Regions from separate parts of the Homo sapiens genome. Here regions 1, 3 and 4 are each linked to region 2. The links come from fine-mapping of genetic effects on gene expression. A gene starts in region 2. Each other region holds a variant in brackets. All regions are shown on one strand. Distances are between the middles of the regions. Region 1 holds the start of PGGT1B (protein geranylgeranyltransferase type I subunit beta). Region 2 holds the start of CCDC112 (coiled-coil domain containing 112). Region 3 overlaps PGGT1B (protein geranylgeranyltransferase type I subunit beta). Region 4 overlaps PGGT1B (protein geranylgeranyltransferase type I subunit beta).

Evidence for each region. PIP is the estimated chance that this variant, and not a neighbour inherited with it, causes the effect.
Region 1: its variant is fine-mapped to the expression of CCDC112 in whole blood (TOPMed, PIP above 0.99).
Region 3: its variant is fine-mapped to the expression of CCDC112 in whole blood (INTERVAL, PIP 0.92).
Region 4: its variant is fine-mapped to the expression of CCDC112 in whole blood (INTERVAL, PIP above 0.99). The same link has a PIP of 0.9 or more in skeletal muscle.

The regions. Positions count from the first base shown.
Region 1 is chr5:115,258,023-115,266,131 of GRCh38, forward strand. PGGT1B (protein geranylgeranyltransferase type I subunit beta) reads right to left here and starts at 4,855. Exons shown (of 9, transcript NM_005023.4): 1 at 4,690-4,855. The coding sequence starts at 4,829. It also overlaps the pseudogene RPS2P26. RefSeq lists enhancers at 4,714-4,893, 4,924-4,973. The variant C/T (reference allele first, on the strand shown) is at 4,485.
Region 2 is chr5:115,293,422-115,301,525 of GRCh38, forward strand. CCDC112 (coiled-coil domain containing 112) reads right to left here and starts at 3,233. Exons shown (of 10, transcript NM_001040440.3): 1 at 3,006-3,233. The coding sequence starts at 3,122. It overlaps LOC105379129 (a long non-coding RNA gene), which reads left to right and starts at 3,507. Exons shown (of 5, transcript XR_948684.3): 1 at 3,507-3,927. RefSeq lists a silencer at 2,882-3,331.
Region 3 is chr5:115,238,547-115,246,655 of GRCh38, forward strand. It overlaps PGGT1B (protein geranylgeranyltransferase type I subunit beta), which reads right to left. Exons shown (of 9, transcript NM_005023.4): 3 at 2,993-3,060. Among named protein-coding and RNA genes, the nearest start is that of PGGT1B, 20 kb to the right of the region's middle. The variant C/T (reference allele first, on the strand shown) is at 3,854.
Region 4 is chr5:115,211,243-115,219,351 of GRCh38, forward strand. PGGT1B (protein geranylgeranyltransferase type I subunit beta) reads right to left here. Exons shown (of 9, transcript NM_005023.4): 8 at 5,623-5,731; 9 at 1-1,341. The coding sequence ends at 1,160. Among named protein-coding and RNA genes, the nearest start is that of TRIM36, 45 kb to the left of the region's middle. The variant C/T (reference allele first, on the strand shown) is at 3,220.

The DNA.
Region 1 (8,109 bases), 35 kb before region 2:
CTGGTAAATACTTTTAAGTACAGTCACATATCTGTGGAATTATTTAACTTGTAAAATAGTTTTTCTACTATCATACTTTTTCAATAAGAAACATCTACTGAACACCTACTACAGACTAGATGTCACCACAAAAATGAATAAAGCTTCCTAACCTTAAGGAGGTTACATGTTAAGTGCTATTACATGAATCATCTTCTTCCTTTCTCAACTGGCTCCTTTTGCCTTTTATTATCCAGACCAGATAGCAGTTCCAATTCAAGAATCCTGGGACTCCTTCTTTTTCTTCATCCCCTCTTTTCTAGCCCTACTTCACTGCCTCAGCATCTCTCTCCTGGACTACCACATGAGTGTCCTCATTGGTCTCCCTGGTTCTGGTCCTGTACCATGTGATATATGACTATATATATGACTATTCCTGTCACTTACATGATATCCAACTCATGTTTCTAGACAAGCACACAAAGCTTTCCATGATCTGATGCATGCCTACCTCTTCAGATTACATTCCTACCATATCCCTTTACATTTTGAACCACTACTAGAGAACTAATTGAAGTTTTCTGCTCAACACTCACTTCTCCAGCTTTATTCTTCTTATTGTCCATTTGCAACAACAACAACAACAAAACACTGGAACACATTCTTTAAGATTTAGCTTTGGGATTACTTCTTCCAAGAAGCCTTCTCTAGTCCCTGTCTCTCTTCAGGCTGAGCTACTTAGGTACTTCCAGAATGCCCTCAGAATATCACAATCATTTTGTCTAGTCAGGGGATTAGCCATAACAAAATCATCTGGGCACTTGTCAGAAATGCAGCATCTCCGGCTCACACTCAGCATCACACTCCTCAGCTATTGCAATATACTTTAACAGGCTGCTTCATGCAACACCGCAGCTCTTTCGCCTACCATTAGATTTACAGTTCCCATAAAGTAAATTTCTAAGACCTTAGACGTTCTCTGCTGCTCCTACACGTAAAACACCATACAGACACTCTATTAAGAGTTAATAACTTTACAGAGGACTGGGATGCACAGGAGTATTCATCTAAAAATACAATGACCCAGGCTTATGCAATCAGAATCTGCATTTTAACAAGATCCCCAAGTGATTCACATACACATTAGAGTTGGGAATCACTGCTGTAATAACTGCATATTTGTTTCTCCTATAAGGCAAACAGTCTCTAACTTTAGCCTGCTTTAGAACCACCTGAGATGCGTGTTATAATGCAGACTCCCAAGGCCCACACAGAATCCAATGAAGGTCTGGGAAGGGGCCCAGGTATGTGCATTTTTGAAAGCACATACAAGCCATTACTTAGAGTCTCCCACCACTACACTTTGAAAGATGTACTGCTAGACTGTGATATATTTAAGATAAGGGGGCCGGGCACGGTGGCTCACGCCTGTAATCCCAGCACTTTGGGAGGCCGAGGCGGGCGGATCACAAGGCCAAGAGACCAAGACCATCCTGGCCAACATGGTGAAACCGCATCTCTACTAAAAATACAAAAAATTAGCTGAGCGTGGTGGCACACACCTGTAGTCCCAGCTACTTGAGAGGCTGAGGCAGGAGAATCGCTTGAACCCAGGAGGCGGAGGCTGCAGTGAGGAGAGATGGTGCCACCGCACTCCAGCCTGGTGACAGAGTGAGACTGTCTCAAAAAAAAAAAAAAAAAAAAAAAAAGATAAGGGAGGAAACGAAAGAACAAAGTAGTTGCAGAATGGGAGGCAGGAGAGAGGTTACAACACAGGATACACAGGGGAAAATAGAGGGACATGAGAATACAAAGACTAGCTAGATTGTAAATGCTTTGTGAAATAAAAGCTAACTGCCTAAACCCTTCTTCTAGAAGAGGTGACTGTAAAAATAACAGAAAATTGTCACTACTTTGTTCCTTAATAAAAAGGACTACTCTAATTCCTATTACCCAAATACAAATGGCAAGAATAACTCATAACCACACTAAACTCCCTAAACTACTTATAAAAGAAACCTGGTAATTGATAAAGCTCCCAACCCAAGATTTAATATTCACTTGGATTATAAACTAGTAACTATCATTTTAAGAAGTCAATATAAAAGAAAAATCTCTGATGAAACCGCAGACAATACACTCTTTATTTTCATAAAGTCATTGTCACTAGAAAAGTAAAAATTATTCCTATTGGTCAGGCTAAAAGAAACAAGAAAATAAGAGTAATTTTGCCAAAATGGTGAATCTGAAAATAAGTGTCTAAATATCCAGTCTAATATTAGCCTTCTCAAAGCTTTTTCATACCTATTGGTAAAAAGAAACGAACAGAGGAACACCTGAATCATTAGTTTAACACTGTATACCTGTACCTAGACACATGGGGAGGCACTCTATGAATGACTGTGGAATTTAACTGCAATACCAGGTAAGAGTTGTGGCTTGCCCAATGTACTGTTTTGTCTTAAAGATCAGCAGAAACTTTGTGACCGGTCACCTTTGCTGAAAAGGTTGGAGTTTCTTCACAAGCATTTTAAAGTCAGTTATGAATCACATGCACCACAAAAGAACTTAGTGCTAAAGAAAATAAAGTCTGTGAGTTAGGAAAGAGAAAAACTTAAAATCACTACAGAAACTGACATATGCAGTTATCTTAAATGCGGTTAACTAGGCTATAAGAAAACCAAAATGATGTAAAAATTCTATTCATATGACAAACATTAGACAAAAAAGGATACAATATTGCTTAACCAATGCACCAAGGTGTTATATAACACCTGGTGTCGATCCTATGCTCATACTAAAGTTAAATAAGTCAGAAAATTTGTGCTGTTTTACTTATGCTGTGAACAGAATTACACAGTTTAATGCCAATGTGCATTATTCTATATGGATTTGTCCAAGCTGGAATTTTATAAAACAGGCCAAACACATTGGCATTTTGAAAATTAAATCACAGACTTATAGTGATAGCTGCAAGCAAAGTTCAACTGTTTAACAATCACAATTTAATCAGCTCACAGGACTTATACACTGCATCTATCTAAGCAGTGTATGTATACGATAAATATGCACATTATGTATCAATAACAAAAACAGGATGGAAGACTTTTTATCTAAAAGCTTTGAATTCACATAAAATTAATCCCTATTAAGATATAAACAATTTATCAACATTTTAAAACATCTCATATCACTACAATCATAACCTTTCGGTTTGGAAATCTGAATCTTTCAGTGAAGGTATAGGCTCTGCTAATCGATCAACACCTATGAGAGGAGGAAGGAATATAAACGTTTCACTCTTTCTTTTGTGAGAATCTGTTCATCCTTCAGGGCTCAGCTCACATTATTCAACAAATATTTCTTAGTGCTTCTCAGATACCAGGTACTATTTAAGGTCCTAGTGCAATGTTGACCAAAAGGACTAAGCTGTTGCAAATGTTGAAATAGAAACAATTGCCACTGGCCAATATGGCAACTGGGTACTTGAAATGTGGTGGCTACTACCAAAAGAATCACTTAATTTTTAATTTGATTTAATTAATTCAAATCAAAATAGCCAAATGTGGCTAGTGGCTACCAGATTGGACAGGGCAGCCCAGTCCTAAGTATAGAGGTAAACAAGATAGACGAAAATGTTACCTTTGTGAAGTTTATAATCCAGTGTAATAGAAAGACATTAAACAAATAAACCAATACATACGTAATGTGAGGTGGTCATTGGAAGTGGTCCCTTTAGGAAGGGTGTTTAAGGAAGGCCTCTCTAAAGATATCTGGATTATGTACATGCCTGTCTATATACTCCTATGAACACTACACTAACATATAGCACAGAACTCTATACAAATGCTTGTCTTGTTCAGCTGTACTCTGGCACCTACCATAATGTGGTTCTTGACCAAGTGTGCAGAAGTAATCTGCAAAGCTCCCCAAACTGATCCGGTCATGCAGTGTTCAAAATACACCAGCAACTCAGAATTTGGAAAACGTGGGGAAAGAACACAGCAAAAACAAGCCGCTCTTTCCTCCCATCCAGTCTCAAGCAGCTTTTGAGCTTCACTTCAAAACACAGCAATGCGGAGCAAAGATTGCCTTCTCCTTTCTTTCTTCTCATCCCCAGCTTTTACTGTAAATGAAGTCGCTTAGTCTCTGCCGCACCACACTCTTCAGCTATTGCGATACTTTTAACAGGCTGCTTCACGCAACACCACACCTCTTTCGCCTACCATTAGATTTATAGTTCCCACAAAGTTTCTAAGACCTTAGAGGTTCTCTGCCGCTCCTACACATAAAACACCATACAGACACTCTATTAAGAGTTAATGACTTTAGAGAGGACAAGGATGCACAGAAGTATTCATCTAAAAATACGACGACAAACTTTGTCCTTTTCCTTTTACACTCGGAAGTAATGAGGCAAAGTGACAGGCTATGGGAGCGGGTAAAAAAGCAGCTCAGAGTTGCCAGAAGAAAAGGGAAGTGAAAAAGCCGGAAACTGGAGATGC[C/T]ACAGCCCTCGACCTACAGCCTTCCAGACCTTCCCACCGTACGGCGGGAGAGTGGGGGTAACCTCAAGCCCACTTGAAACCAGTCAGTGCCAACTGGGCGGCCGCGCAGCCCCCTTCCGGCGCCCAGTTTGCGGTCCGACTCCGCCGCGCCTTTCCGCTGGAGCCCGGGCCTTGTGCCAGCCTGGCTGACTGTGCCACGAGTTACCTGCTTGTCTCGAGTGAAGAATAGCGCTCCGGCAAAACCTGGAGGCAGCGCTGGAAAAATCGCACGTGCCGATCCCGTAAGAAATCCAGCCGCTCTCCCTCACCGCTCCCTGCTAGCCTCTCATCCTCAGTGGCCGCCATGCTGCTCCGGAAGCGACGTCCGCCGCGACCCGGAATCAGTGCCCGCGGAGAGAAAGAACCCTCCTGTGCTGAACCACAGGGTGCCGGGTGAGGGGACCTGCGCCCGCCGCAGACTAAGCCAGTATTTGAAACCGCTATCATCTGGGTCCTGTGCAGCACTTCCTCTCTCCGATATCTCCCTAGCTAGCGCATGACCCTACCTTTTCTACTCAAAGCCCTCGAGGCTTGTAAACACCTCGCAGGCCTTGTGAAAATCAAGTCCACAAATCCCTCCGTCAGAATTTTTATCTTGGGAAGCGCAAGGTCAAAAGCATCAAGTACGCTTTGAGACAATTCTGGCTCTGTAGAACCTGAGGATGGTATATCTGAAAACGAGGATGGATCAGTATAAACTTGCTAACAGATTCATTTTTGGAGGGCCAGTTTTAAGCCGAACGGTTAGGGAAACAGAAAAACAAACCAGTGGAGATAAATGTTTATTGACACTACAAAAGCTCAGAGACTTTCCTAATCTTAATCCTTTCTGGATACCAGGAATCACTTAAAAATCTGTGTATAATGCCCCCAAACATATACAACATGCATATTCATACCTATATATGACTGCTTGCGTCATTCTTTTACAAATCTTACAGATTTTACTTTGCTTGAGTCGACGTGTTATCAAGAATCAATGGTGCATCAATCTGCAACAGCAAAATAAGCTCAATATCTTCTCCAATTACCTGCATTCTAAAAAATTTAAACATGCTTCTAGTTCTTTTTTCCAAAAATAGGGATTTAAGTTGTTTAGCCGGTATACTATGCCCTTTAAACTTTCATGAGGCATTCCTGAGTAGCGGGTGGGGGGATCCACCCAATAATATAACTAAACTAGGTTCCCTGTGATCAACTTAGCTAATAAAATTTTGGGTTTAATTTTGTTAGCTTTCTTAGAAAATGTAATTCTTATACTCTATGGGCTGGGGTAATCTTACACTTATTCAACAATCCAAAGTGCTCTGAATAATTTTTGGTACTATTAACTACTTATTCACAGGTATTCCTGCATGTCTTTACAAAATGCCGCATTTAACAGCCACAGACGGATTCTAGGCTGTCCTCGGTACTTCCCTACAAATACGGAGCTCACAGTCCTTGCCCTTCAGGTGTGCCCAGTCTGGAGTTTCCACTGTTATTAAAATTAAGATCTCTCACTTAGCACACATACCCCCAAATGCCTGAAGATTTTTAAAGTGGAGTCTTATACACATTTAACTTACTGGAATCAGCTATGGACACTCTATACATTCTCAGAAAATTAATTCTAATAAACATGGCCCTTAAGTTAGGGAAGCCAAATGTTTCATCTGATTCTCAGCTCAAGGACTAGCAATCTGATCCAAATCTAGAGGAAAAATTTGCAATGTGGGACTCATTCAGAGATAATACAGAATGCCTCCTAGGTCGGTAAAAGGCTTTCCATGAGTGATTTTATCCCTACAAGATTTTTGGCATGTGCATAACAGAATGGGAATGATAGAACATCTATATAATTGAGTGTTATTTAGCCATTACATGATAATGTTTGAATTAGGTAGAAATGTACGAAAATGTGTAATGCAATTATAGCATAGTAATTAATATGTACTGTATGACTGTAACAATTTAAAAATATGTAGGTATGTTTTTTGAAAAAGTTACCCTGGAATTATGGGTACTTTATAACATTTCTTCTTTAGTGTTTTTTCTATGTTTCTTATTAATGTAGTTTTTTTGTTTCCAGGCTTACTTCATTTTATTTTTCTTGTACAACCCGATGTTGTAGCCACCGCTGGAGCCTGGGTCCTCTGCACGGAGACTCTGGTGTGGGTCTTGAGGAGGTGGTCAGTGAATTCCTGATAGGGAGACTTGGTGAATACAGTCTCCTTCCAGAGGTCAGGGTTCAGCCTGCTGTAGACCTTAGAGATGGCATAAAAAATGACCATGACGAAGTTGCCCAGGATGGCAGTGCAGCCCCTGGCTGAGGTGTAGCAGTCATTGATAGCTGCCATCAGCAGCAGCTTCTTGGCCATGGGGGCCGAGACGATGCCAGTGCTCCTGGGCGCAGGGATGACCCGCGCCAGCACAGAGCCGTGGCAGCCTGTCACCTTGCAAGGGATGGTGTGGGGCTTGCCGATCTTGTTCCCCCAGTAGCCTCTGCGCATGGGCACAACGGAGAGCTTGGCCAGGATGATGGCCCCGCAGATGGCAGTGGCCACCTCCTTGGAGCACTTAACACCCAGATCAGTGTGGCCACTGTCCCTGATGGCAACAAACGCCTTGAACCTGGTGTTCTGGCCGGTGCAGGTCTGCTTCTGCACTGGCACGTCTTCAAAACCTCCTTCTTGAGAGAGGCCCCAGGAAAAAGTCAATGATCACAGACTCCTTGATGGGCAGAGAGAAGAGATAGATCTACTCCAGGGACTTAATCTTCATGTCCTTGACCAGGCAGCCCAGCTTGGTGACAACCATCTACTCCTTGTCCTTGGTCTTGCCTCCACGAGCTCTGCAGCTGGCCCCGGCCCCGTCCATGGCCGCGACACGAGTTCCCCATCCCAGGGCCGGCTGAGACCCCAGTTCCCCATCCCAGAGCCCCCCGGGCCTCCGGGCCTCCCAGGTCCCCCGCTGCACCGGCATCATCCGCGATTTGGTGTTTTCTCAGAGAAAAAGCTAATGTACTTTTTAAACCAGTATAAGAAATATTTATTTGACATCTTGTTTATGAACCTGTAACTTCTATGAAGTCTGTAACTGAAGATATTTGTTTATCTTACATCTTTTATATAAAGGATCTATATAATAAATTCATCATTTATTTCAGATTCAGCTAGAAAAACTGATTTCTTCAGAGGAACTTCCATACTTTTCTTTATTTAAAAAAAAAATAAAAAAACAAAGCCATAAGAATCACATCATCCAGAATGCTTACCTTGGATACAGGAATTTGAAAGCTGCATTTCGGTGCAACAAAAAGCAACACGTAAAAAAGCAATATGTAAGAAACATTTTCTGTATCTTGTAGCTTCTCAGTTCTGCTTTTAATTTCCTCATCTTGCTCTGTGTTTTATTTATGTATTTATTTTTTGAGATGGAGTCTCACTCTGTTGCCCAGGCTGGAGTACAGTGGCACAATCTCAGCTCACTGCAACCTCCGCCTCCCGGGTTCAAGCGATTCTCCTGCCTCAGCCTCCCAAGTAGCTGGGAGTACAGGCGTGAACTACCACACCAGGCTAATTTTTGTATTTTTAGTAGAGATGGG
Region 2 (8,104 bases):
ACCCCATAAATGTATATAATTAAGATTTGTCAATTAAAAATAATGTTAATTAAAACAAAGGTGTTAGTAGGGCTACATTCATTCTGGAAGCTTCAGGGAAGAATCCACCCCCTTACCTTTTTTTCCAGCATCTAGAACCACCTTAATTCCTTGGCTAATGGCCCCTTCCTCACATCACTCCATCCTCTTCCTTCCATCATCACATCTCCTACTTCTGACTCTGATCTTCCTGCGACTCTCTTATAAGGACCTTTGTGATTACACCAGGTCCACTCAGATAATTAAGGTATTTAATTTATCTTAATCACACCTGCAAAGTCCCTTTTACGATGCAAGATTACACAGTCACAGGTGAAAATAGTTATTATTGAAGGGTTATTTCAGGCAGCCAAGGAACATAAAATTCAGGTCATCAGAGGGAAGGTCCTTAGAAACAAAACAGAAGACAGAGCCTTATGCTGGTACAAAACCAGCATCACACTAATGTGATACTGTTAAAGATACTTCAAAAAAGTCATAATTCAGCAACTACAATGATCAAGAGAACAGATGGTAACAAGAAGGAAATGACATTGGAGAGGAGGATAGAGATTTGCGGTCTTCAGTTTTGAAAGGCAATAGCTAAGAGGGGTTATGAACAAATAATATACAAATATTAAAAAGTATGGAAAATGTGTTAACTTTTCATAATGAGTGAGGAATTTATGAGATTCCACGCCCTGAGGATATTGTAAAATAAAATACAATATAAAATAGTTTTAAAACTTCAGAGATATTTACTCCAAAGTAATTTAAAGACACTGTGATGGACTGAATTGTGTTCCCTCAAAATTCCTATGTAGAAGGCCTGATCCCCAAATAACTCTATCTGGAGATGGGGTCTTTATGTTAAATGAGGTCATTAAGGTGGGGACCTAATTTGATAGAACTAGTGTTCCTATAAGAAGAGATGCCAGAGATCTCTTTCTCTCCTCTTGTAACAGAGAAAAGACTATGTGAGGACACAGTGAGAAGGTGGCTGCCTACAGGCCAGGAAAAGAGGCCTCACCAGAAACCAACCCTAAGGGCAACTTGATCTTGAACTTCTAGCTTCTAGAACTGTGAGAAAATAAACTTTTGTTGTTTTAGCCACCAAGTCTGTAGCATTTTGTTATAGAAGCCCTAGCTGACAGGAACTTTAGATATTTTGGTAGACATCTCTAGTATCATGAGATTGCCACCAGGAAAATTCTCTCTTCTCAAGAAAATACTAGTTGGTTTCAGTGTTAAAGTCAGTAGGAATATTCGTTCATTTAATCATATGACAAATATTCAAGTTCGGTGTTAGGCTGTAGAATTTGTGTGTATAGGTATGTGCGTGTGGTATGCTGGGGGAAGTACAAAAATGGATAACATGTAAACTCCTAAACATTATCACAATATAGCATGCAGTAATGCTGCATTGTTTTGTTTTGTTTTTTTAAAAAAGCCCAAACACACGTGAAGAATTCTACCTAACTATGCTGAGGTAGATTCTCAACAATGAGGCTCTGCTTTCCCTACTAAAGTGGTAAGACAGTATACACCATGGTTCTCAATCTCAGCACTACTAACTTTTGGACCAGATGATTTTTGTTATGGGTGGCTGTTCTCTGGCCTGTATCCATTAGATGCTAGCAGCCCCTCAACACCCCCCTGCTCCCCACTCTGACAGCCAAAAATGTCTCCAAACATTGCTAGATATCCTCTAGGGGATTGATAAAATATCTGAAAGAGCTCCACAGGTGATCTGATCCAACCCCTGAGAAGGCAAACATCACAAAAGTGTGCATCAATAACAACATTAGGCAACTCGCAAGAAATGCAGATCAGAAGACAGAACATTGCTACAAGAATTTAGAGAAATGATGGAGAAAGCCAGCAACATGGTGTCACACATTTTTTTGAGCATAGTACTTAAAAATACTTTACGTATTATGTATATTTATATATTTTACATTTTTTCCTGAGATACTTGGGACAGAGTTAGAATAATAAAGAGAATTATAGAGGATGTGTGAGAAAATTTGCCGTAGGTGGAATTTCCTGAAGGTCTACGAGTAAAGACACTGTATTTCCTTAAAGGAGGAAAAAGATGGAACCTCTCCTCAGCTCATGACAGCCTTCCTTCAGGTTTATATTGATCCACAAATTATTTAGTAAGTGCATACTACGTTCCAGGCACTACACAACAGGCATAGTTCTTGGTGCTGGGAATACAATAAAGAATAAAATTTCCAATACTTTCTGCCCTCATGGAGCTTACATTCTCATGGGGGTGCGAGGGAGGGTGAGGGGTGTGAGGAGAAACATAAACAATAGAAATAAAGTATGTAATATAATATATGGTACTAAGTGCTATGGGGAAAAATAAAACCAGAAACAGGGACTGGGTGTGCCGCGTAAGGCGATTCATTTTAGGGAGATCATGGAAAGTCTCGCTGAGCTGATAACATCTGAACAAAGATACCTTGTCCTCACCACCTAGAAAGCGGTCCTAAGCCGATCACTGGAAACACCTCTGCCTCCGACCATCCCATATTGTCTTTCTCCTTGTGTTCCCAGCGCCGGTACAGTAACAGAGCTGCCACCAATTACTGAGCACAGAGTCCCCCTCCAATCAAGCACTGTGCCAGGGGCTCCCCAGACATAACGTTAGTCCAAAGCTCGGGAGGTGCATGTTACTATTCCCAATTTTTAGAGAAGAAAGTGAGTCGCCGACAGCATATGTTCTTATCACGCGGCTAGGAAGCGGCAGAGCCGGGTTCCCACCCAGGTCTTCCTCGACTCCGAAACCACATGGAGGCGGCTCTGCAAAAGCTGTTAAACGCACAAGCCAACAAAGAGCAACGCCCAGCGCGTGCCAGGCCCCGAGCAGGGGAGGCGAACGCCGCGCCTCCCGCCGGCGCTGCAGAGGGCACCTGTTCAGCCAGGGCCTGCAGCCCCTCGCCTGCCGCCAGAGCAGCTCTCGGTTCTCCCGGATTTACCTGTTGAGGCGCTGGCGTCGCTCCCACGCCGGTCCCGGTGGCCGCGCCCGCCCCTGCCACAGCCCCGGCTACCGCGGTGGCCGCAGCCGCTACCACAACCGTCGTCAGTGCGGCCATGTTTACCCGCCGAGCTACTCGGGCCGCGGCGGCCACCGGTGCCTGGGGATTCGTGGCAGGCGCACCCTGGCCTCTGCAGACAGCTCCCTGCGCTGCGGGCTTGGCCGGGATGCAGGGCGGGGCCGAGATGTAGGGCGGGGTCGGGATGCAGGGCGGGGCTGAGATGCGGGGGTGCAGGGGTGCGGGGGTGCGGGAGGGGCGGGACTGGGGTGCAGGGCGGGGCCGAAATGCGAGGCGGGGGCCGGGATTCAGGCGGGGAGGGGCGGGGCGAGGGAGGGGCAAGGTGCCGGGCGGAGCCGGGATGCAGGGGAGGGGCGGGTCTGGGGTTCTGGGGCGGGCGGGTGTGGGGGCGGGGCGGGGCGGGGCGGGGGCTGCGCTCTGCCCTGTCGCGGGTTTATATACCCTTTGGGCACTTAACCGACTGTGCCAGCCCAGTCCCATACCTGTCAAGAAAATTCATTGTCTTACATCGTCCTTAAATTTTATTCGTGTTATAGTCAATATATACATATTTTTACCTAATATACATCCGCTTTCTAGGTTTCTACTTAGCGCTGCTGAGACTGAGTCTAAATGAAAAAACATTATCAATGGATTCTAACAATAAATCATATTTTAGATTTTTAAAGAAAAAAACCCAGCTTGCTCCACAGAACCAGATATCAGAGGCAGGAATGCCACAGTTACATTCCTAGGACTTGGTCAATGAGAAGACAGATTCCAAAAATACAGTGCTGGGAAGTTGGAAAAAAGCCACAGATGACGCTTCCAGTCAAGACAACCTGTGGCAACTGAGCTGATTTCTGTAGGTACTACCTTTTCCCCCTTTATAGAAATCGATTCATTCAGTCAGTCAATATGGAGCTCCTAGCATATGTCAGGCACTGTTCTAGGCCTTGGGAATTCATTGTTGAATTAGACACATAGGTAAGGTTCCTTCACCTTTAACAAGTAAACAAATAGGTATTTATTGAGCAATTCCTTTATGCCAGGGCTGTTATAAGTGCTTTATATGCACTTTTGCATTTAATCTTCACAAATAACTTCATGAAGTAGGTACTATTATCATCTCCATTTCAGTGATAAAGTTAAGGATCACATGGCCACACAGGTAGAGGGTAGGATACCTATCTAGACAGCCTGACTCCAGAGACCATCCTGGTAGAGGTATTAAACAGGCAGCGGGATAAACGCCTCTGGAGCCCAGGAGAGAGAGAGCTAAAGATACGAATTTGATCTTCCTATAGAAAATATTTGAAATAAGACTGAATGAGCTCACCCAGGGTGAGTATAAATTGAAGTCTGAGAACTAAGCCTAGGCCACTCCGAGAAGGTGACCACGGACAAGAGGAGAAGGGGACCAATATGGAGAGATCTGTGAGAAGGGAGGAAAACCGGAAGTCTGTGGAGGGAAGTTTTTGCAGAAGAGGCCGGACGTGGTGGCTTACGCCTGTAATCCCAGCACTTTGGGAGGCCGAGGTGGGCGGATCACGAGGTCAGGAGATGGAGACCATCCTGGCCAACATGGTGAAACCCCATCTCTACTAAAAATACAAAAATTAGCTGGGCGTGGTGGCGCCTGTCTGTAGTCCCAGCTACTCGGGAGGCTGAGGCAGGAGAATTGCTTGAACCAGGGAGTCGGAGGTTGCAGTGAGCCAAGATCGTGTCATTGCACTCCAGCCTGGTGACAGAGTGAGACTTCGTCTCAACAAAAAAAAAAAAAAAAAAAAAAAAAAAAAAAAAAAAAAAAAAAAAAAGAGAAGAAGAAGAGGGGAGAAGAAGAAGAAGGAAGAAGAATGGAGGAGAAGAAGAAGGCAAAGAAGAAGAAGGAGAAGGAGAAGAGAGAAGAAGGAGAAGGGAGAAGGGAGAAGGAGGAGGAGAAGGAGGAGCAGGAGGAGGAGGAGAAGGAGGAGCAGGAGGAGGAGGAGAAGGAGGAGGAGGAGGAGAAGGAGGAGGAGGAGAAGGAGGAGGAGGAAGAGAAGAAGAAGGAGAAGAAATAAGAAGAAAAAGAAAGAAGGAGGAGGAGGAGAAAATGGTCAGCTGTGTGGTTCACTGCCTAGAGGCTGAGTGAAGGGGTAACAAAGAAATGATGGTTGCATTTGGCAACAGGGAGGCCGTGGGTTTATGGGGTAGGTAGACCAAAGCCTGGCTGACTGCATTGAGGAGATAATGGAGGTGACGAGGTAGAAACTGTTTTTCGCTATGATTTTGATCGATTTTATGGTGCAGGTGATCAGAGAAATGAAGTGGTAGCTGGGGGAAGATGTGTGATCAAAGAGGGTCTTTGTTGTTGTGTTGTGTTTCAAGGTAGGGACTAGTAGAAGGAGTTCATGCTGCTGGGAATTATTTAGTGGAGACAGAAGTTTGATGCTGCAGGACAGAGGCAGTCAGACCCTCTTGAAAGTAAGGCTGATGGAGTCCAGAGCATAAGTGGGAGGTTTGGTCTTTGATAGACGCACAGACTCTTCTGACACAGGGAGGTAGTGGGTGGGGACTATGGGGAGGCCAGAGAGTCCTGCATACATGGGTTGCAGCACAAGGTAGTTGGAAGATTTGGAGGGAGGAGATGGTTGGCCCCACCTCCCCACCCCTGTGTGAAGTAGGAGGAAGTAAGTCACTTGGGTGTATTGAGAAGGTAAAACTTCTTTAATTTTTGTATTACCTTTTATCCAAATGAGCCCTGTTACTATAGCACTGTCTGAATTCCTGTAATTATTAGTCCAGAATTATCTTGCAGCCTCGGAAAAAAAGCAAGTCAACCAACGATTTGAGTTGAGTGGTCTTTTACAATTTTAATACTGCCACTAAAAATAAAGAGAAGCCTAAGATCATTTTGCACTTCCTATTGTTTTTAGAGTATATCCTGCACTGGATATCTAGAGTACTGTGTTCAGAAGTTTTCTGAAATCACCCTTTTCTCTATGTGCTATGGAATCAATTTGATATATATTTCAGTTCTTTTGATTACATTTGTGTTCAATTTCAATGTTTCCTTTTTTGTTTTGTTTTCTTTCAATTTACTTTTTTTAAAAAATAAGTAAGTTATGTATAACATGTATAAAGTCAAAACTCTATGACAAGGTATGTTTAAAGAAGGCTTACTCCCCAACATATCCTCTCCATGGCCTTTCAACTAATCCTCTATGGTAAATAATTGTGTTAATTTCTGGTTCTTTTATGTTTCATTTGCAAAAGAAAAAAAGGTAAATAGACAAATACATTTTTATTTTTCTTTTTTTCTTACAAAAACATCTAGCATATTATATTAGTGTTCTAGGGCTGCATAACAAAGTGCCATAAACTGGGTAGTTTGTAACAACAGAAATTTATTCTCTCATAGTGTAGTAGGCCAGAAGTTCAAAACCAAGGTGTGGGCAGGTCTGGTTTCTTCATGGGGGCTTAATGGGAAAATCTGTTCCATGCCCCTCTCCCAGCTTCTGATGATTGCCAGCAATCTTGAGACTCCTTGGCTTGTAGAAGCATTACTCCAATTTCTACCTCCATCGTTGCACAACACATATCTGTGTCTCTGTGTCCAAACTTTCCTCTTATAAGAATACCAGTCACTGGTTTAGGGCCCATTCTAATGCAGTATGACCCCATTTTAACTTGATTACATTTGGAAAGACCCCATTTCCAAATCAGGTCACATTCACAGGTACCAGGGATTAGGACTTCAGCATATCTCTTTCGAGGACACAATTCAACTGATAACACATGTATTATACTCTTGAAATTTTTGCTTAACAATATATACTGCACCTTGAAATTTTTGCTTAACAATATATACTGGAACTTGCTTCATGTCAGTTCACAGAAATTTTCTTAAATTTTAAAAATTAAATGCATAATCCTCCGTTATTTTATTCAGCCAGTCATCTGCCAATAGATATTTAGGTGATTTCTAAACTTTTGTTGCTGCAAGTAATGATTCATAAGTATTTCATATTTGGGAAAGTGATTATCTTCAGTAGAATAGCTAGGTCAAAGGTTAAATGCAAATGCAACCTAGTTAGATATTGCTAAATTCCTCTCCATAGGAGTTGTACCATATTGCACTGCCACTAACAATGTGTGAGGGTGCTTGCTTCTTTATTGCTTGAGATCTTAGTATTTAAGTTGTTGGATTTTTGAAAATCTAAAGAGATGAAAAATCGTATCTCTCAGTAAGTTTAATATGGGCATACCTGTTTTTATTGTGCTCCACTTTATTGTGCTTTGCAGGCACTGCATTTTTTACAGATTGACGGTTTGTGGTAATCCTGTGTCAAGCAAATCTATTGGTGCCATTTTTCCAACAGCATTTGCTCACTACGTCTATGTGTCACATTTTGGTAATGTGACGGTATTTCTCGAAATATGCTCACGATATTTCAAACTTGTTTCCTATTATGGTGATCTGTGACCAATGATGTTTGATGTTACCATTTTAATTGTTTTGGGACACCATGAGGCATGCCGAACTTAATAAATGTTTTGTGTATTCTGACTACTCCACCAGTTGACCGTTCTTCCATCTTTAATTTTGAAAGAAGTTTCACTATGAGTAAAATGCTATCAAAAAGCATAGAATGCTACAGAGAAATCTTTTGTGAAAGGAAGAATCAATTGAGGTGGCAAACTTCCGTTGTCTTATTTTACGAAATTGCCACAGCCTCCCCAGTCTTCAGCAGCCACCATCAACATAGAGGCAAGACCATCAGCAAAAAATATTATAATTCACTGAAGGCTCAGATGATTGTTAGCATTTTTAGCAATAAAGTATTTTAAAATTAAGGTATGTACATTGCTTTTTTAGATGCAATGTTATTACACACTTAATAGACTGCAGTATAGTGTAAACATAACTTTTATATGCACTTGGAAACCTTAAATTTGTGTGTAATATTTCCTGCAATGTTTCTGAGGGATGTCTGTATGCCTTTATGTTATTATGAGGAAGGTCAGCCTTTTTCATAAGTTTAAGGACAATTGCTTGCTTT
Region 3 (8,109 bases), 55 kb before region 2:
CTTCCAGAAAAAAAGATTTCTAAAACAAAACTTATTTTATATAGCACAAATCTAAATGAAATACCACAGTAGTGATCACCATATAAGAAACTAAAAAACGATACAATTAAAATAAACTCTTCTGCCTTCTATAATAAATGTAAACTTTTACAATCATTGAAATGCATAAAATCCTGGTTCTATTTCTCACTGGCTTGCTTAATGTTCCTAATCCTAGAAAATGAAGATATTAGTACATCACAAGGTTATTGTGACGATTAAGTAAGTTACTGTCTAAAAAGCTGTTACTTATCTTAATGGTGACTAAGTGCAAGGCAAATATCAGACGGACCACTAGTTCTTTGGAGTCAAGATCCAAGGGTCTTGAAACCACCCATGAATCGTAAGATTTTCTTGCATACTTACCTTCTATGGTTCCTCACAGAATGAATTTGAATGGTGTTCACTACCCTTTTTATAATAATCTGAACCCACCCCACCTACCCACCTTTAGATACACATTTTTTTTTTTGAGATAGGCTTTGCTCCGTCACCCAGGCTGGAGTGCAGTGGCACAATCTCGCTCACTGCAACCTCCGCCTCCAAGGCTCAAGCAATCCTCCTGCCCTGCCTCAGCCTCCCAGGTAGCCGAGACTACAGGCACCTGCCACCACATCCAGCTAATTTTTGTATTTTATGTACAGAACAGGTTTTTCCCATGTTGCCCAGGCTGGTCTCAAACTCCTGAGATCAAGTGATCCATCCTCCTCATCCTCCCAAAGTGCTGGGATTGCAGGTGTGAGCCACTGTGCCTGGCCAGATATGCAGTTCTTTATATGGTCTCACAAATGTACCAAGCAAATTTCCATCTTTATGTCTTTCATTCTAAGTTCCTCCTTAGAACTCAAGCTCTAGTTCTCCTGGCTATCCTATTCCACATTTACAACTGACTTCTTAGAATTCCTATTGCATATTTAACTTTTTGATACTTAAAGTAAATACCTGCTATGTTAAAACAACTGCATGGAAGCCAAACATAAATTAAATGTGGTCCTTAACCTTAAGAGCAGAAGATAAGTCTACTCAAATAATTACAATAGAATGTAATGAGTAGTCATAAGGGAGGGATAATAATAACATGGGTTTAAATAGGAATTCTTTTCTGCAGAAGAGGAGCCTGGGCAGGTATAGATGAAGAGGAGGTATTACAGGTAGAAGAAAAAGTAAACGCAAATTAGAGAAGGATAATTCTGGGGTGCACATTAAGGACAACACAAAATTTGCTAGAGAGCATGGGATTTGTGAAAGGAAATTGTGACAATAGTGGGAGGATCCATCAGTGTTTCTCAAAAAGTGCTCTACAGCCATTGAAGGTCCCAAGCATTTATCAGGTAAGTCAGTGAATGGTCCATAGGTAGTTTGGTGGCTTCAGAAGAAAACTCAGTGACAATATTTTATTCATATACTGTACTGGACAATCTAATGTGCCTCCTCACATTCTCTTGGCCTAATCTGTCTCCTAGACGCTCAGTCACCACTCTCAGTGACGGTTCTATGTGATACCACTTGGAATATCTAGTTCCTTTTACCACCCAGAATTCAGATGAAGGTAATACAGCATGAAGTGAGACCTAGCTTGCCCAGAAGATATCAGGGTGCAGGTGAATGAAGGTCCAAAAAGGAGTTTCAGGAGACTCTGTGAACCAAGGGCAATAATGGTTTTTTCTTCAATTTTACTCCTGTTATTTTGAAAATGTTTTGGTGCAGGCGTTGGTTGGGGGAAGGATCATATTTTAAAAGTAATGTTATTAAAGCACTGTAACAAATATAGGTAGACATCTATATATAGTATAGTACTATATAACGGTCATCATAACTAGTGGCACGATATTCTGTTCATTATGACTAAATGAAGACATTACCTGTATTCTGGATTAGCTTAAGGTGGAAAATATGATAGGCATGAAAAGGGACAAATTTTCTGAATCCTTTGTTTTCTCATTCCCTGCTAAATGCAGTGGGCACCCATAATTGGAGTCCTGCTGGTAAATTCATATGACCTTGACACAGGCAAGCTGGTTTACAGCTTAAGGCAGAGGAAGAAAGCTGAAGTAGTACCTCTATCAAAGTATGTCATCTTCTTCAACATTACTGCTATTTATTCCAAAAATTTGAAGCTGATTACGGAAAAACTGGTAGCTCTCCACTTACCTTGCAAGTGGATACTCAGCCCAACAAGATACTGGCTTATAACCATTACATAAGCAGGCTGGCCCCATCAGGGAAAAAGTTTCTATGGTGTGAGGCCGCTTTAGAAAAAATGATGCTTTTCTCCACTTTCTACTGTAGAAAAATACTTGTATTTTGTGTACATATGGAACACCTACAAAGTTTCTTCTGGGTCTGCTCCTTTGAAGAAGAAATAAAGCTCCTCCCTCTGTTAGGACTCACTGTTTTTATATTGGCATGTGCTGGTATCAAGGCCTTTGGATATAACCATGAAGAAGTTCTGCATATTCTAATAAAAGTCATTAAAATAATCACTACCTAGGTCTTCAATCACTGCCTTTAGAAGGGCTTTTTCTTTTATTCCTAAGAAATGTGAGCTAAATGTAGAGTCTTTCTATAAACACAACAAAGTTTACTGGCTTCTTACACAGCAGGTATCAAAACACTTCAGTGCTCTGTTTTCCTTTACTCAGGAAATCACCAATAACTTTTACACACAGATGTATGATACTGAGACAATTTTTTGTAACAATTAATAGAAATTTGTGTGTGTTTATGTACTGCATGTATTCTTCCCGGAAGAAAGTGCACTTCTTTGAGGAAGTAAAGTAGGTATAGGTTTCCTTTAAAGGATTTCAGTTTATAATATATATATATTATTAGACAACATTTAGCCACATTGAAATCTGGAAGCCTGTTTTTTTCTGTGTAACTTCTTAGTTTTCTCTTTTATTAAAATATCCCTACATCCCTTCTACTTCCTTCTGAACCAAATAGAACCAACCTTTGATGGATTGAACGGAATACCCAGGTATGAAGAGCCTCGGAAACCACAGCGATTTAGATTTGATCCTAGAAAATAAAAGCATGTGCTTATTTAAAGTACACTTTATTTTTGCACAGATTCTAAAGCAGTTTAATTACACAATCTTTCAGAAACAGACTATTTTAGTCTCCATTTTCATACTGGCTAATGCTGAATGCTTACCATGTGCCAGGTCCATTCTAGGTGCTTATGGGAATTTCCTCATTTAATTTCCATATGAGTCACAAAAAACATAATTATTTCTATCATGTACCTTTTTTTAATAGCCCACCTCACTGCCTATACAGTCCTTTCATACTTCTCCTGTCAGATCAATTTTTATGTGATCAACATGTTCAATCCCCCTTTCTACAGAACAGAAAACAGAAGCCCAGAGGTTAAGTGATTGTTCAAGGTAACGGTTAATAACACAATAGGGTCTACTGTCTTTTTACTTTAACTCATTTAGTGTGTTTTTACTTTAACTCATTGCTTCTTTACATGGGAGCAAACTAAAGGTTTAAAGCTGAAGAGAAAATATGTACTTTGTATTTCCACATTAGCTAGACCTTCGTTCTGAGTCCAGTAATCCACTTGGCTTTGAAGTATGTAGAACACTGTAAGTTAGCACTTAGTCTCTCTCTACTCAATCAAAATATGTTTATCCATACTTTTTTTCTATCTAAAAATTTTCATTTCTCAAGATATCAATGGAATATAAGTTGGGAACTTGAAAGAACAATCAACTATACAACAATTATGGTTTTAATAGCTATTAGAAAATCAGTATGATAGATGCAGAAAATAACAATGCAGTATCAGCAGACTGTAAATGCACCG[C/T]TGATAAAAAAAAATCGAGTTGGTCTAAAAATAGTCTCTGATATGAAGAACTACCTTCATAAGAGATTATGACTAGTGTATGACTAACTTCATTATTAACTGTTTTCACTCTCCTACTTCTGCATTAGGTACTATATTTTTTCAGCTTCTTATCCCCCCAAAAAACTTAAAATAGTAGCTTATACATTAATTCTTTGAACAAATTAGGAACCACTAAATTTAAACTCTCCACCAATTATCATCTCCCTACTGGCGAAAAATGTATTTTAAAAAGATACTAGCAGCCAGGTGTGGTAGCTCACGCCTATAATCCCAGCACTTGGGGAGGAGGCAGAGGAGGGCGGATCACCTGAGGTCAGGAGTTCCAGACCAGCCTGGTCAACATGGTAAAACCACATCTATACTAATAATACAAAACTTAGATGGGTGTAGTGGCACCTGCCTGTAATCCCAGCTACTGGGGAAGCTGAGGCAAGAGAATTGCTTGAACCCGGGAGGTGGAGGTTGCAATGAGCCAAAATCGTGCCACTGCACTCCAGCCTGGGCGACAGAGTCAAACTGTCTTGAAAAAAAAAAAAGATACTAATGGTGATTATGATTTCAGTGATTATGGTTCTCTTATCCTAAGGACTTTTAAATTGGTAAGCTACTTAAAACTTGCCAATATATAACAGAAGTTATAAAAACACTCATATCCTTTTGACCCAGTCAAATTATGGTTCTCTTATCCTAAGGACTTTTAAATTGGTAAGCTACTTAAAACTTGCCAATATATAACAGAAGTTATAAAAACACTCATAACCTTTTGACCTAGTCATGATATATCTGAGAATCAATTCCAATAATTTCAAGTATGAGAAGAAATGCACACTGCAGTTTAATAATAGTGAAAATCTAGAAGCACCATAAAAGTCCAGCAGGTTAAGCATATCATGCCTCATGTACTGAAAGAAACGCTATATTCCTATTAAAAATAATAATCAGTAGAACTATGTAGCAACACAGAGAAATGTATTTGATCAAGTTAAGCAAAAAAGTAGGATCCAAAAATAAATGTGCATTTTTATGTTTATAATTAAGCAAATGGCACATATCAACAAAGACTGGAAGGGAATAAACAAAATAATATGAATGGTGTGAGATGATATGAATAAGGCTGAAATTTGTTCTCTGTATTAGTCACTGTTGCCATAACATATTACCACAAACTTGGCAACTTAAAACACCTACTGCCTTACTGTTTGTAAGGTCAGAAGTCTAACACAGGCATCATCAGGCTAAAGTTAAGGTGTAGGCAGGGCTACCTTCCTTACTTGGAGGCTTTGGGGGAACAATCTGCCTCCAAGCTCATTCAGGATGCTGGCAGAATCAACTTCCTTGCAGTTGTGTGACTGAGTTCTCCATTTCTTTGCTGGTAGGTATCCCTTTTTGCTCCTAGATCCTCTCTTGCCATTTCTCATATATGGGCCCCATATCTCAGAGTGGCAACGGCACTCAAATCTTTTCCATTAGACCCTCTCTACCTTCTCTTCTCTCTTCTGCTCCCTTTCTCTGCAATTCCATGACGAACGTTTCTGTGTTCGTCTGCTGTTCATGTGATTATACTGAGCCCACCTGTACACATGTCACCTATGGATAAGCTCCACATTTTAAGGTCAGTTGATTAGTATAACTTTAACTCCCATCTACACAGTCCCTTCACAGCAGTACCCAGATTAGTATTTGACTGAATTAACAGGGAACAGAAATCCTGGGGCAACATCTTTAGAATTCTACCTAACACAGGTTGGGCGCGGTGGCTCATGCCTGTAATCCCAGCACTTTGGGAGGCCGAGACGGGCGGATCACGAGGTCAGGAGATCAAGACCATCCTGGCTAACACAGTGAAACCCCGTCTCTACTAAAAATACAAAAAATTAGCTGGGCGCGGTGGCGGGCGCCTGTAGTCCCAGCTACTCGGGAGGCTGAGGCAGGAAAATGGCATGAACCCGGGAGGCGGAGCTTGCAGTGAGCTAAGATCGGGCCACTGCACTCCAGCCTGGGCAACAGAGCGAGACTCTGTCTCACAAAAAAAAAAAAAAAAAAAAAAAAAGGATTCTACCTAACACACCCCCCATATTCCAAATTGTACATAATGCTATACTTAAAAAAAAAATAAAAAGTTATCTTTCTCTTACCAAGTTATGAATTCATTTATCCTTTTTATTTTTGAGACAGAGTCTTGCTCTGTTGCCCAGGCTGGACTGCAGGGGCATGATCTCGGCTCACTGCAACCTTGCCTCGCAGGCACAAGCAATTCTCCTGCCTCAGCCTCCCAAATAGCTAGGACTACAGGCATGAGCTACCACGCCCAGCTAATTTTTGTATTTTTAGTAGAGACGGGGTTTCATCGTGTTGGCCAGGCTGGTCTCGAATTCCTGACCTCAAGTGATCTGCCTGTCTTGGCCTCCCAAAGTACTGGGATTACAGGCAGGAGCCCACCGCACCCAGCCTATCCTTTTATCATCACTTCTTTTAATCCTTCTCTAGTTGGATGAGGGGCAGTATCAAAAGGCGTATTTTCCTATATGATTAAAACATTTTTAAATCTTTTTTTTTCTCTTTTTGTTCTTGGGATTGTCTTTTTTAAAGGGTATCCTTTCAAGTTACTAATCTGCTAACAGTCCTCCATAAAAATGTGATCCCATTTCTACTTTTGATGGAAGACAGCTCTGATACCATCTGTCAGTTCTGCATTTATACTTGCAACTGGACACCTTTGTTGAGTACCCCACCAACTTAAACAATTCTGTCAGGTGTTTTACATAGAGGCAGACATATAGTAGTGGCTCAATAAAATATCTGCTTCTGAGTGAAATAAATGAATTTATTCATCTTCTTAGAGGTGAATCAGTAAATGACATTTCTGTTTGTTCACTTCTGTTTTTAGCCTGATTAAATAAATAACTTTTCTGAAAAGCAGCAGAAATATCAATACTTAAAAGTACCATATAAGGTTAGGAGATTATGGCATGGACACTTGGAATCAAACTCAGGATCCTATTCTTCCTATCAATGAGTTCTATAGGCAAGTAACAACCTCTCTGAGCCAGTTTCTTCCATTTTTGAACTAGTAACAATAACATATTGCAAGTAATATACTTCAGGCTTCTTGTAAAGGTTAAAGGACATGTTTAGATTGTACTTAGCAAAGTGAAACAAGGCTTAATAAACAGTAACCATTCAAAATCAGTTAATTGTATTTTATCAAAAGTGAAACAGGAAGAAATGAATAGCTTTTGTTGCAATTTATCAAGGAAAGCTTTTTTAAAGTAAAAATGTTTTTCTTTTTTTTTCCAGAAAGACTGTATACTGTCATGAAAAAAGTGTTTGGATCTTAAGCACCACGGTCACAGTATAGGGAAAAGACAATGTAGTATTTTTTGCCTTCTTCTTAATCACCTGTGGACTATGAAACTGGATAAAGAAGTTTATTCTAAAGTTTATACTTTATTCTACAGTAAGAGAATTCTCCTGTTTCTTATGAAAAGCTATGATGAAGTAACTAAGAAATCAAGAAAATTACTCATTTACTAAATTGAGTTATCAGTCACACACTTAAATCCTAATGTTTTAAAAAATGATGCTCATTAGGAGGTAACATTTTCACCACTTAATTTTTCACCACTTAGGCCGGGCGCGGTGGCTCAAGCCTGTCATCCTAGCACTTTGGGAGGCCGAGGTGGGTGGATCACCTGAGGTCAGGAGTTCGAGACCAGCCTGACCAACATGGAGAATTCTACCCCATCTCTACTAAAAGTACTAAAATTAGCCGGGTGTGGTGGAGCACACCTTTAGTCCCAGCTACTTGGGAGGCTGAGGCAGAAGAATTGCTTGAACCCGGGAGGTGGAGGTTGCAGTGAGCCAAGATTGCGCCACTGCACTCCATCCTGGGTGACAGAATGATACTCCATTTCAAAAAAAAAAAAAAAATTCACCACTTAAAAATATTTATTAGGTACTCTTTTGCGGTTTCTGTCAATATTTGTCTGCTCTTGTGTGCTTTCCTTTGGAATTCTAGTAAGCATACCTTTTCATGATAATTAAGAAAGTATACACACACAATTCATTGTAAATTTATCGCTGAATGCATACTCTGGGTACAGTATAAATTTCTTTCCAGGTTATCAAACAGCACCATCTAGTGTTCCTATTTAACAGTTGCAAAACAAACTGAAAATTCTTTGTGTGGTCTGGCTGCCCATCAGAATCAATTG
Region 4 (8,109 bases), 82 kb before region 2:
AAGAGTTTTTATACTACCTCCTTTATAATTAGCTAGTTCATAGACTTAAAACAAAACAATGAACAAAAACAAAACCCTATTTCTTACCCTCTAAATGGTCGCATTTCCCTTTCACTTACCTGAAAATATGAGAATAAAAATGACCATGTATTGAGTTACACCACTGAATCTGTTTGAATGGTTCTGTTTTTGTATTTTTTACTTATTTAATTTGAAAAAAATTAGAAAAGTATTAGTTTGAAATTAGAGCAGCTAACACACTGGGGGCAATAAATTAAAAACTTCAAATGGCTAAAAATGAAAACACAAAGTATCTTTCCTTCTAGATAAAAAAGATTGTTTTCTTCCTAGAAAGCAAAAAAAAAAAAAAAAAAAAAAAGGCAACTAATGATTTGAGAATAAAATCAAACATAACTGGTATTCACCACAGCAATGTCTAGATAAATGACCCACATAGCACAAAACTTTCTCATTCACAATCACATACAGTTAAGTTGCTTTTCCCTCAGTTACATAATAGTTGTCTTCAAACAATCTCCTTTTAGAAAACTATCACATTAGTTAAACCTATTTATTCTTACTATGAAGTTATTAACTTCATTTATATAGGCCACACAGGTTTAATTGGCACACTTTACTTAAGAATAAGACAAAATAAGTCACTCTTCTTTAAAAAAAATTATGGTCATCTGTTTTCAAAGAATAATCCCAGATACTTAATTAATTAAAGCAAATTTTCTACGATCAGCAGTGAGCTTTTTAAATGATCACTAAGTGTTCACCTGAAGATTATCAATGCTATATGAAGTGTAAACTTGAAAATTTGTGTCCATTTTATAATAAGATACAATTTGCACTGAAGAGTTTTTAAAAAGATAACCTACACACATACAGTTAATTTGCCTCAAACAACTTCTTAGAAATACAGTATAAACATTTAAGAACCACGACAAAGTTGTGGTTCAAACTTCAACAAAGATTTTCTTGAAACCCAGTATAAAGATTACTGGCTCAAGACCATATCCCAAAGTGAAATCAGCAGGAGATTTGATTGTAAGACTCTACCTTTTAAAAAAAGAGCACACTTGGTTATACATGGCTTTTAAACTTGAGCTACAGTTATGCTACAAATCCCCCCACCCTCCCAATCTAAAATCAGTCATGTGGAGATATGTACATTCTCTGAGCATTGTTTAGAGTCCTTGGTTTTCCAGCTTTGATGGAGATCTAGAAGGCGTTCAGAAGTCCGTGTGCTTACATTCAGAGCAGGATGAACTTTACAAATTCCACTTTCCTCCATTAGTGACAGGCCACAGATCCCAAAGTATGCATGCAAAGCATCTGAAAAGAAGGCATTTAAAACATCATAATAGGCATTCTTACTTGTACATTCTACAGAATATTTTAGCCACATATTTACCAGCCCATCACTCCATTAAAAGTAAGTTTAGAGAAATGCTAATATAGTTTTAAAAATATTTGCTTTCTCAAAGCCTCAAACACCAATTAAAAAAAAAACTCAGATGATCAAAATAAAATATTTTATTCATGAAAATATCATTAACAAAGGAAAACAGTTTCCAGCTGAAGAGCTGATACTGTCCATAACCTCTGTGATTAAAAGACAGGAGTAGCAGCAGTCATATGTAAGACTTCTCACTTTGGGGAGTTTCCCCTCTTGCTTACTAGAGAACATGAAAACGAGTAGCTTCAATGCTATATCATTAAGTTTTTTTTTCTTTAAAACGAAAACAAAACTCTGAATCTAAGTTGCAATATCCCTCGCTCCACGTTTTACCTCTGAAAGTTCCTAAACCATATGCAGTACTATCCTAACATTGTGTTAAATAAAAGGAGCTTATGCAAAAATAATCCATTCTGGAATGCTGTGCCATATTTAATCCTCCTATTTAGGGTAATGTCAGTCATTGTAAAAATATCTGATCTGACAATAAAAACAAACTCACATTCTATTTGGTTGAAATAATATGAGTGCTCATACCATGACAATTCTGCACTGGCTCACTAGTTTCCCATCTTTCAGGGGGCAGCGATCCTCTTCTATTAAAGTGGCCAATGAAATCACATGGCCATTCCTGCCTAGGAGTCTTATGTAGACTTCTGAAGAGCTCAGAGCTTTGCAGTTATAGGAACATTAAAAAGACAGTTTTGTACCAGTCAAAATTTTTTTCTATTTTTGAATTGGCCGACATTTATGGCCTTAAGAGCTATTAAAGTTCAAAACAGGCTGGGTGTGGTGGCTCACACCTGTAATCCCAGCACTTTGGGAGGCCGAGAAGGGCATATTCCTTGAGCCACAGGAGTTCGATACCAGCCTGGGCAATACGGTGAAGCTCCATCTCTACAAAAAATACAAAAATTACCAGGTATGGTGGCGTGCGCCTGTAGTTCCGGCTACTCGGGAGGCTGAGGTGGGAGGCTCACCTGAGCCTAGGGAGGTTGAGGCTGCAGTGAGGCATGATTATATCACTGCACTCTAGCCTGGGCAAAATAATGAAACCCTGTCTCAAAACAACAACAACAAAAAGTTCAACACATCTTACCACATCAAACTTTGTCAAAAGAGTTAAAGAAAAAGCTTTACTTACAACAGTATCACTTATTTTTCAAAACAGAAATGACAAATAGCTGTGCTTACTCAATGCCATTGTGAAAATGTTATTTAACTAATGGAGGCCCATGTTGATCACCTTTTAGGCCTTTTCAGAAAATACTTAGGTTTCTTCTGGCTCACTTTCCTTTGACTTTCAGACTATAAAAAATAAACTTGATTTCACCTGTCATATTACATCCATATAGTTATTCTAAAACTACAAAGGGTACAAAGCAACATTAAGCTTTGTTTTCTAGAAACTAGGAAACTTTTCTAGGAAAAAGTACAACAGAAAATATATATCTATAATAACATAAAATAGAACTGTGTAAAACTAAAATCTCTCTGGGTAAAGTAACAAATAAAACTTATTTGTTTCTCAAAAAGATTTTTGTAACAGCCAATGAGATCAGAACTCAATTGTTTGAAGCCTCAAATTGTGTTTTTAAAAAAACTCCTTATCTGTAAGTGGCAACGTACAAGCACTTTAGATGTGGAACTATATGTTTACTCCATAATAAAGCACTTTAGATGTTGAAATATATATTTACTCCACAATAAAAGGTTATTCTTTTGAAGTTTCTTTCATAAATGTATATAAAATC[C/T]CTTTGTATCAAATTTGCCACTAAATTCACTAGAATGAAGAATAAGCTTAATTTTAAAGAATCTTGTTAAAATGATTAAAGATTCTGGGACCAGATCTTTACACATAAATTCAATTTAGCAAAGCCCTTCTATGCTTTCTATTGCATACTCTGAAAACATTGTAATGTATCTGTAAAAAGTAAGTAGTACATCCAAATATTTACACAAATGTTAAAGTTAGCAACTGAACTCTCCGGAAAAAGCCTCAAGAACTTTCTTTTAAAAAAGCTATTGGAAACACTGAATGTATTTCAAGTATGTTTATACAAGAAATGTTTCCTAAGAGACTGTCATTTCCCTACTCCCATTATTTGTTAAAACAGTACCCTGCACTGGTTTAAAAAATGGAATGAAGACCAAAATAATTCTCAGTTTTGAGGCACTAGAGATATCAAAAATTTCAAGATATTATTTTGCTTGAGAAATTAACTTCTGAAGACACACTTTGGCTTACGACTTTGAAAGCAATGTACACTTTCTCTAAGAAGACATGTTTTACTACTGATTGATTGATTGAGACAGAGTCTCGCTCTGTCGCCCAGGCTGGAGTGCAATGGTGAGATCTTGGCTCACTGCAACCTCCACCTCCTGGGTTCAAGCAATTCTCCTGCCTCAGCCTCCTGAGTAGCTGGGACTACAGGTGTGCACCACCATGCCTGGCTATTTTTGTATTTTTGGTAGAGACGGGGTCTCGCCATATTGACCAGGCTGGTCTTCAACTCCTGACTTCAAGTGATTCACCAGCATCAGCCTCCCAAAGCTGGGATTACAGGCGTGAGCCACTGCACCCGGCCATTTATTTTATTTTATTTTTTGAGATGTACTCTTGCTCTGTTGCCCAGGCTGGAGTGCAGTGGTGTGACCTTGGCTCACTGCAACCTCTGCCTCCCAGGTTCAGGCAATTCTTCTGCCCCAGCCTCCCAAGTAGTTGGGATTACAGGCACCCACCACCACGCCTGGCTAATTATTGTATTTTTAGTAGAGGCAATGTTTCACCATGTGGCCAGGCTAGTCTCAAACTCCTTGCCTCAAGTGATCCGCCCACCTCAGCCTCCCAAACTGTTGGGATTACAGGCGTGAGCCAAAACTCCTGGCCTAGGAAGCATGTTTTATATGAAAATATAGGCAAGTAGGGGTGTAAGGAAATATTCCTGCTCATTTCAAATACAAAAATTGATTTCATGAGCTCCTTATTTATATTCTGATTCAATCACACATTCCAACCACAGCAGTTCTGTGATGGAAGATGAGTTGATGAGGCACTTTCCAGGCTGATAATAAAAACCACGACTCTATTGCAATACTGGCAAAAACAATCATTCCTTGTGTCTAGTTTCATATTTGTAACTAATTCTTTAACTACTTGCTTATCAAAAGTGTCAGTGTTTGAAATTATTTCAAAACACACTTAAATGGATTTTTATAGGGAAGCTGTATATAGACTCATTTTGCTGGAGGTGAAAACATATGTCGGGTGAGGTGTAGGCTGCAGAATGATGCTAGAGGTGGGAGAGGAGCCAAATTTTGGAAGGGCCTTGAGTGCCATGCCATTTATATTGTCTGAATCTGTTGAAATTTGGAGAACAAGAGTATGGGAAGTGAGAAACACATATATTCAGGATTTGAAATATTTTATTTAATGACTTTTTTTTTTGAGACAAAGAGTCTCGCTCTGTCACACAGGCTGGAGGGCAGTGGTGCAATCTCGGCTCACTGGAACCTCTGCTTCCTGGGTTTAAGTGACTCTCCTGCCTCAGACTCCCGCATAGCTGGGACTACAGGCACGCATCACCACACCTGGCTGATTTTTGTATTTTTAGTAGAGTCGGGGTTTCAACACGTTGGCCAGGCTGGTCTTGAACTCCTGACCTCAAGTGATCCACCTGCCTTGACCTCCCAAAGTGTTGGGGTTACAGGCATGAGCCACTGTGCCCGGCCTATTTAATGACTTCTGAAAAGAGTAAGAACTGATTCCCTTCAGGATTGGGAGTAATTTATTATACTTAGTTCAAGTCATGACTAATAATCCTAACGGCTTTGGATGGCCTAAATAATTCTCTTCTTTGGAAAGGACCCATTCAGACCATCTACATTATTGCTGCAAATGAAATAAAACATTACTAAGTAAAATATTTGGGAAAAAATGCACACTATTCCCATGCATCTTGATAATAAACTCTTTCATTTATACTCTCTAATACCCTAAATTTATCCTAAGCTTACACAATATACCTTTTAAAAAATATTATTTAATGTAACTTTGCAACTGGATATATTTTCTATCATATGCCTTTTCTGATAAAGATGCTTGAAGATCTATTCAGGAAATAAAGGTTGTTCTGATTCACAAAGAAAATAATTACCTGGATGACTGTCTGGCCACTTGGCAAATCCCCCTACAAGGCGATCTTGAGTTGATAAGATGTAATTTCTATTTTTCTCAAAGTTAGTGTATTGGAAAATTTTTAGAAGCTGAAATGACATGACAAATAAAAATTTACTGACATAAAACTCATATCAACCTTTGGCTCAAATTTCAGATACGTGTCATTTAGATATGCTTTTCTTTAGCTAAGGTGCTCAGACCAAGTCTCTGGGGCCTTGAGCACTTTTGAAATGAGTAAATCACATTAACTTTTTAATTTTCTTATCAAATCTACTCTCCTTTTCTCGACTCTCTATTTCCTTCTTCTGAACCAGGCCAACTGAACCCTTTAAATCACATTAAGCTAAATTCAAAAGACAACTCGAATCCACTCAACATAATCAGTCATTTTAAAAAGTACAATTTTATCTACCCATATTTTAACTCTTATGATAAGCTCTTGAGCTATTAGTTATAAACTAGTAGTAACTGGAATTAAAAATATTTTTTAAAAAAAGAGCAAACAAAAATTACTAACCAGATGCTACAGACAGTTTTGAAAATAGTAAAAAAGTATAGCTCTTTAATTAGGAAAGAAAAAGGTAAGACAAAAATGATTGCAACATAAAAAACTATATAGTTTTTAATGATTTAGGACATGTACTTGGCTTTTCTCTCAAGACCCCATAAAAGTAAAATACAAATAAATAAATAATACTGTGAAGTTCAAGATGAGGTGCACAGTAGGTAAGAGGGTTCAAGACATTTCTGATGATACAAAGCAATTTAATATATGTTAATGAACCAGAGAGAGCCACAGCTTTTAGTGACTAATGAAGAAGCATTATTTCTCAAAAAGAAAAGCTAAACTCATAAGAAAGTTATGGTACAAACAGGAAACAAATTTATTCATTTACATTGATTTAATTAATAAAATATAAGGAAAAAGACTTTTTTGAATCTTGATGTTAGGAATATTTTCCATCAGTGGCACACTGGTCATTACATAAAAATGAAAAAATTATAATAGTAACACTGCACTTGGCTTAGCAATAAACAATATTTTCACTATCCCATAATAAGTGTTGATTACTGGTTTTTAAATTTTAGAATCAACCTATAGGCAAAGGCTGAAAGATGTGATTATTAATATTGAACAAATATATGAATGTGTCCTAACTTAACATTATAAAAATAAAGGTAACCTTATATAGCATTGGAAGGTAGAAGATGAGGAAAATATTCAGAACTAACTATAACGGGTAACAATTTGTTGGAAAAGTGAGAGGCTAAATCTTAATTTCTCATAGTTGGGAATCATCAATAATGTCTAAAGGTGATAAGAAGTCAGTCTGTGATTTAAAGTTATGGTAATGTCCACAAGAATTAAAACATTTTTAAAAAGTTTAAAAGTGGTTGCCTTCAGAAAGCTGTCAAAGACTACTGACGTCAAATAAAAAAGACTTGGGACAACTTGAAAGGGTTCTTATAGACTAAAGATAGGACAATTTAAGCATTATATGTGTGTGTGTATATATATATATATATGTCATATATAACTAATATATATTATATATAATATATGACTAAAAAATGTTAAAATCTATGTGTTCACAATGATTCTCAAAAAAAAAAAAAAAAAACCCAAACTCTAAAATCTAATATTTTATTGGAAAGGCTGAGGGGATGGTAGGGAACCAACTCATTTTGTTGAACACTATTAAGGGAAAGAATTCAGTATTTATCTGTCCTTCTCTGTACAAAGTATATCTCAGGGTAAGGTAAAATTCTTCTTTAAAAAACAATGCTAGTTAATAAATTGAGAAGGAATGAAAGAATACCACTGTTTTGTAACCTCTTAATGCCATAATTGATTTAAGCAATGATCCTTAATGCCTGTTAAAACTATTCCATAAAAAGTTGGTAGTTACTATAGACTAGCAATGAACAATCCAAAAGGAAATTAAGAAAGCAATTTCATTTACAAGAGCATCTGAAATGATTAAATACTGAGAATTTAATCTTAACAAAAAGGTGAAAGATTTGTATGTTGAAAACTACAAAACATTGCTGAAAGAAATTGAAGACCACCTATATAAATGGAAAAGCATCCTGTGCTCATGGATAGGAACACTCAACAGTGTCAAGATATCACTACTACCCAAAGGGATCTACAGATTCAATGCAATTCCCATCAAAATTTCAAAAGACTTTTTTGCAGAAATGGGAAAGTCAATTACCAGATTCATATCAAATTGCAAGGGGCTCCAAATAGCCAAAACAATCTTGAAAAAGAAAAGTTGGAAGTCTCAAACTTCTTGACTTTGAAACTTACTACAAAGCTACAGTAATTAAAACAGTATAGTACTGGCACAAGGGCAGCCATATAAAACAACAGAATAAAATAAGACGTCCAGAAACAAACCTCACATATATATAGTCAACTGACTTTTGACAAGGGTGCCAAAACCATTTCATGGAAAAG